2 linked regions of the Homo sapiens genome follow. The protein of the gene in region 1 interacts with the protein of each later gene in a pairwise test. Each region holds a gene or a part of one and is shown in the gene's direction. Other genes may lie near its edges.

Region 1 (2,674 bases):
CTGAAAATACAAAAATTAGCCAGGCATGATGGCAGGCACCTGTAATTCCAGCTACTTGGGAGGCTGAGGCAGGATAATCACTTGAACCCAGGAGGCAGAGGTTGCAGTGAGCCGAGATCGTGTCACTGCACTCCAGCCTGGGCGACAGCAAGACTCCATCTCAAAAAAAAAAAAAAAAGAAAAAGAAGAAGAAACAAAGAAATCCTGTCCTCAAGCAATCCTCCTGCCACAGCCTCCAAAAGTGCTGGGATTATAGGCATGAGCCCCTGTGCCCATCCTATTTTTTTAGATTGAGAGGGTACAGGTTTGTTATTAATAAATGGATATATTGCATGATGAGGCAGTTTGGGCTTCTGCTGATCCCATCATCCAAACAGTGAACATAGTTCCCAATAGGTAGTTTTCCTTTTATTTATTTATTTATTTGTTTTGAGACAGTCTTCCTCTGTTGCCCAGGCTGGAGTGCAGTAGCGTGATCTCAGCTCACTGCAACCTCCACCTCCCGGGTTCAAGCGATTCTCCTGCCTCAGCCTCCCAAGTAGCTGGGACTACAGGCGCCCGCCACCACGCCCAGCTAATTTTTGTATTTTTAGTAGCGACTGGGTTTCACCATATTGGTCAGGATGGTCTCGAACTCCTGACCTTGTGATCCACCCGCCTCGGCCTCCCAAAGTGCTGGGATTACAGGCGTGAGCCACTGCGCCCGGCCTCCCAACTCTTGTCTCCCTCCCTCTCTCCCTGCTCTAGTAGTCCTAGTGTCTGTGCTTCCCATCTTTATGTCCATGGGTATGCAATTTTTAGCTCCCACTTATAACTGAGAACATGCCGTATTTGGTCTTCTGTTTCTGCATTAATTAGCTTAGGATAATGACCTCCAGCTGCATCCACGTTGCTGCAAATGGCATGATTTCATTCCTTTTTATGGCTCTTTCCTTCACTTTAGAGATTGGCCAGAATCTCCTCTTTGGCCACAATCCGAGGACCCCCTACCCACACCACATCCCGATTCTCCTGGGCTCTGACCACACACCTGGCCTTTCTTCCCAGGTGAACCTGGCCACCCTTGACTCCGAGGCCCTGCTGACCTTGGGCCTGAACCTCTCACACCTGGGCCGGGCCGAGCGCATCCTGGAGCTCCGGCCGGCCCTGGAGGGTCTAGAGGGCCGGATCCGCTACGTCATCGTCCGCGGAAACGAGCAAGGTTTCTTTCGCATGCATCACCTCCGTGGCGTCAGCTCCCTGCAGCTGGGGCGGAGGCGGCCGGGGCCTGGAACCTACCGGCTGGAGGTGGTGAGCCACATGGCAGGACCCTGGGGTGTCCAGCCAGAGGGGCAGCCAGGGCCATGGGGCCAGGCCTTGAGGCTGAAGGTGCAGCTGCAGTTGCTTTAGTTGGGAGGAGCCTCAGTGGGCCCCAGCTGTCCAGAGAAGGGGGATTCTGGAACTGGGAAGGACTGATCCCCAGAAGCGATGGCTGACCAGATTGAACCCCGAAACTCAGGAAGAGTGAAATGCTACACGACAACCTCAGGCAAGCCCGGCCTCTGCCTGGGCCTCTGTGCCAGCCCCGGGGGCCCCCCAGTTACTCAGTCTTTCCTGGAGACAGCAAGAAGCTGCAATGTGCAATCCCCCTGCCCCCACAGCCAAGGTCAGGAAGAGGCCCTGTGGTCACCGTGTCTGGCCAATCTCAGGCTTTCACTTCTGTACTGCACTGTGGCTTGCCCTGGCGGGGGGCAGGGGGTTGGCAGGACATGGCAATGGGCAACTGGGGTGGGCACAGGGCTTATTCCTCGGAGTAGAAGGGTGTACAGGGGGCCCAGACTCCACAGTGACTTGCCACATTTGCCCCCCATTTGGAGAATGCTTTTATATCAAAAGTGGAGACGATAATAAAGTTATTTTGGGTTAAGTCTGCCTGCCCTTTGGCAAGTTCTTGAAGTAAGTAGATGCTGCCCTTGGACTGGGCGAGGCAGATCTTGTGCCTGGGGAAGCAGAAGGCCTTATGGGCTCCCCAGAATGGTAATAATGGCTCACGCTTCCTGACCACGTACTACATACCAGACACCATTCGATTTTTTTTTTATTTTTTCTGAGGCAGGGTCTTGCTCTGTTGCCTAGGTTGGAGTGCAGTGGCGCGATCGTGGCTCCCTGTGGTCGCCACTTTCCGGGCTCGAGCAATCCTCCCACCTCAGCCTCTCCCAAGTAGCTGGGACCAAAGGTGCACGCCACCACACCCAGCTAATTTTTTTAAATTTCTTTTTCTTTCTCTTTCTTTTTGAGACAGAGTCTCACCCTGTCACCCAGGCTGGACTGCAGTGGCGCTGTCTTGGATCACTGCAACCTCTGCCTCCCGAGTTCAAGTGATTCTCGTGCCTCAGCCTCTCGAGTAGCTGGGACTACAGATGTGTGCCACCATACCTGGCTAATTTGTGTATTTTTAGTAGAGACGGGGTTTCACCATGTTGTCCAGGCTGGTCTCAAACTCCTGACCTCAGGTGATCGGCCCGCTTCGGCCTCCCAAAGTGCCGGGATTACAGGCATGAGCTACCACACCTGGCCTAACATTTATTTTTCTTAGAGATGGGGATGTCCCTATACTGCCCAGGCTGATCTTGAGCTCCTGGGCTCAAGTGGTCTTACTGCCTTGGCCTCCCAAAGTGCTGGAATTACAGGTGTT
Region 2 (3,828 bases), on another chromosome or scaffold:
GGCACCTTGGCTTATGCTTGTAATCCCAGCATTTTGGGAGGCTGAGGTGGGCCGATCACTTGAGGCAAATCACCAGCCTGGTCAACATGGCAAAACCGTGTCTCTACTAAAAAAAAAAAAAAAAAAAAAATTAGCCTGGTGTGGTGGCTCACACCTGTAATCCCAGCTGCTTGGGAGGCTGAGGCACGATAATTGCCTGAACCAGAGAGGCGGAGGTTGCAGTGAGCCAAGATAGCACCATTGCACTCCAGCCTGAGTGACAGAGTGCAACTCTGTCTCCAAAAAAAAAAATTAGAAATGTATAATAGGTAAACATGTTACATATATAAAGTATCAATTATCATGTACTTTGATTTTTAAAAGATGAGAGAGTATATGTCATTATGATATTCTAACCAAGAAACTAACCTTTTTCTGTCTCCATTTTTACTGATTCAGAACATATATTTTAATTGTAGTGAGGTTTTATGCCTCAACTTGTTAACTCTGGTATGTACAGAATTTTTGTTCTTTGTATATTAGCATATAATGTCATAGTTGGCATTTGGTTTTGTGTATTCACTAAATTTTGTTTTAAAATCTTTGAAGAATATAAACTAGTTGCAGGGCCTAAAGAAATAAGCTTTTAAAATAATTTTAGGGAAGAACATTTTTAAATAAAAACTGAAAATGAATTTGGGTATTTGGTGTGCTGAAAAGTGAAATTTTTGCCTATTTAAAACTGACCCTAATCTTGGACATTAGTAATAAAAGGCACATATTAATAAAAGACACATTGACCTAGATTATGTTTAACAAAACTTTAAGTTATTTAAATTATGCTAACACAGCATATGTAGCACATTTTAGAAATTCATAGATCTTTTATTTTTCTAGTGTTAAACAATTACTTCAAATTGATTTGTATTGCTACATAAGGCAAAAAACAATTCCTGAACTTTGCAGAATGGAAAAATATTTCAACTGCCACATTTACTCTTTTAAAACTGAGAGCTTTAAAGCAGGAGCTCCCAATCCCCGGTACCCATCCCTGGCCTGTTAGAAACTGGACCACATAGCAGGAGGTGAGTGGCACGCAAGCCAGAGAAGCTTTATCAGTATTTACAGCTGCTCCCAATGGCTTGTATGGCCACCTGAGCTCCGCATCCTATCAGATCATTGGCAGCATTAAATTCTCATAGGAGCATGAACCCTATTGTGAACTGTGCAAGCCAGGGATCTAGGTTGTGCCTCCTTATGAGAATCTAATGCCTGATGATCTGAATTGGAGCTGAGGTGGTAATGGGGAGTGGCTGCAAAAACAGATTAACATTAGCAGAGAGGCTTGACTGCACAGAGACCGTAATCAATCAACTGCTTGCAGACTCATATCAAAACCCTCTCAGTGAGTGGCAAGTAACAAGCTGCATCTAGTGGCAGGTTTTAAGTCAGAATCTGACATTTAATCTGCATGTGGCCTGCCCATTACTTATTTACCACTTCCATCCATGTCTCTTTCCTGCACTGTGCATTTGTCTCAGTCACAGTTTTGGTAAGCCCACAAGCTAACCCTAGCCAAAATGAGTAAAAAAACAAACGTCCTTGGAGAGCTTCTTTGAAAAGGGGGAAAGACCCAATGATGAGACAGCAGAAGACTCTAATACTGCCAACAAAGAGAAAGTGGCATTTAAAAGAAAATATCAAGAGTCCTACTTAAATTGTAGGTTCATTGCAATAGGTGATTCACATTCTCCAAACCTGCTTTGTCTAATATGTGATGACCAGCTATCCAGAAAAGCCATGAAACCTTTAAAAGTGCTTCACCACATGGAGACCAAACACCCTGCATTAAAAGACAAGCCTTTGGAGTTTTTCAAAAGAAAAAATCGTGAACGCAAAGAACAGAAGTAATTATTGAAGGCCACCACTTCATCAAATGTGTCTGCAGTGAGAGCATCATTCTTAGTGGCTAATCACATTGCTAAAGCTAAGAAGGCCTTTACTACTGGTGAAGAGTTGATCCTGCCTGCTGCTAAGGACATCTGTTGTGAACTCTTAGGAGAGCCTGCAGTTCAAAAGGTGGCACATGTTCCTCTTCTGGCTAGCACCATAGCTAGATGAATTAATAGAGGATATGAGGCACAGTTGTTAGAATTAATGAGTCACTGTGGTACCCAATCCAGGTTAATGAGTCTACCAGTGTTGACAGCAAGGCAACAATGCTTGTTTTTGTGTGATACATTTTTCAGGAGGATGTGCATGAGGATATATTATGTGCACTTTTGCTTTCAACCAACACCACAGCTGCAGAACTATTCAAGTCTTTAAATACATATCAGGAAAACTGAATTGGTCATTTTGTATCGATATATGCAGGGATGGAGCAGCTGCCATGACTGGACGGCTTTCTGTTTTCACTACTCAGGTCAAAGAGCTTGCTTCTGAATGTGAGTCTGTGTACTGTGTCATCTGTAGAGATGCTGGCTAGTTGGAAAATGCCACCTGAACTTACCATTTTGTAGGATGTGCTTAAAATTTTCAACCACATTAAAGTACATGCCCTTAATTCACATCTGTTCATGTAGCTCTGTGAGAAGATAGACACAGAGCACACGTCTTCTCTTATACACAGAAGAGAGACGGCTTCCTAAAGGTAGATCACTGGCCACTGTTTTTCAGTTACAATAGCTGCTCCAGAGATTTCATTTTAGAAAAAGTCACCACTGGCAGCACATTTCGTTGACACAGAATTGGGTCACAAAATTGCTTACTTGGCCAGGCATGGTGGGTCACGCCTGTAATTACAGCACTTTTGGGAGGCCAAGGCAGGCAGATCACTCAAGGCCAGGAGTTTGAGACCAGTCTGGCCAAAGGGGAGAAACCTCGTCTTTACTAAAAAATACAAAAATTAGCTAGGCATGGTGGCACATGCCTATAATCCCGGCTACTCGGGAGGCTGAGGCACGAGAATCACTTGAGCCTGGAAGGCAGAGGTTGCAATGAGCCGAGATCATGCCACTGCACTCCAGCCTGGGCAAGAGAGCGAGACTCCCTCGAAAAAAAAAAAAAAACTTGCTTACTTGTGTGACATATTCAATCTGTCACCTCAGGGGAGAACAAAACTGTGTTCAAGTTGGCAGATAGAGTGGCTGCATTCAAAGCCAGACTAGTATTATGGGGGCCACAAGTGAACATTGGGATTTTTTGACATGTTTCAAACATTAGCAGAGATTTTAAAAGAGACTGAGCCAGGACCTTTTTTCTCCCAGCTGGCACATGATCACCTATCTCAGCCTTCAAAGAGTTTGAGTATTATTTTCCAGCCACGAAAGAGCCCCGAACTGGGAAGGAATGGATTCACAACCCATTTGTGAATAAGCCAGGTGAATCGACTTTGTTCATGCTAGAAGAGGATCAGCTGCTTAAGATCACAAATGATGTTGCCCTTAAAAGTATGTTTGAGACAACTTCACATCTCCATACATTCTGGATTAAAGACAAAGTGGAACATCCTGAGATTGCCACGAAAGCACTGGAAAGCCTGCTTCCATTTCCAACCTCCTGTCTTTGTGAAACAGGGTTTTCTGTAGTGACAGCAGCCAAACAAGATTACAGAGTAGACTGGACATAAGCAACACACTTAGGGTGTCACTGTCTCCCATCACCCCTAGATGGGACCGTCTAGTTGCAGGGAAAACAAGCTCAGGGCTCCCACTGCTTCTACATTATGGTGAGTTGTACAATTATTTCATTATATATTACGATGTGATAATAATAAAGTACACAATAAATGTAATACACTTGAATCATCTCAAAACCACCACCACCCCCCTCCATGGAAAAATTGTT

The links.
Region 2: the proteins of FBN3 (region 1) and C11orf58 interact in a two-hybrid assay, tested with the Homo sapiens proteins (one large-scale study listed by BioGRID and IntAct).

Annotation. Positions count from the first base shown.
Region 1 is NC_000019.10:8,064,634-8,067,307, reverse strand, and holds the end of FBN3 (fibrillin-3 precursor), read left to right. Parts: intron 1-1,047; coding exon 1,048-1,389; 3' UTR 1,390-1,906; downstream 1,907-2,674.
Region 2 is NC_000011.10:16,748,466-16,752,293, forward strand, and holds part of C11orf58 (small acidic protein), read left to right. Parts: intron 1-3,828.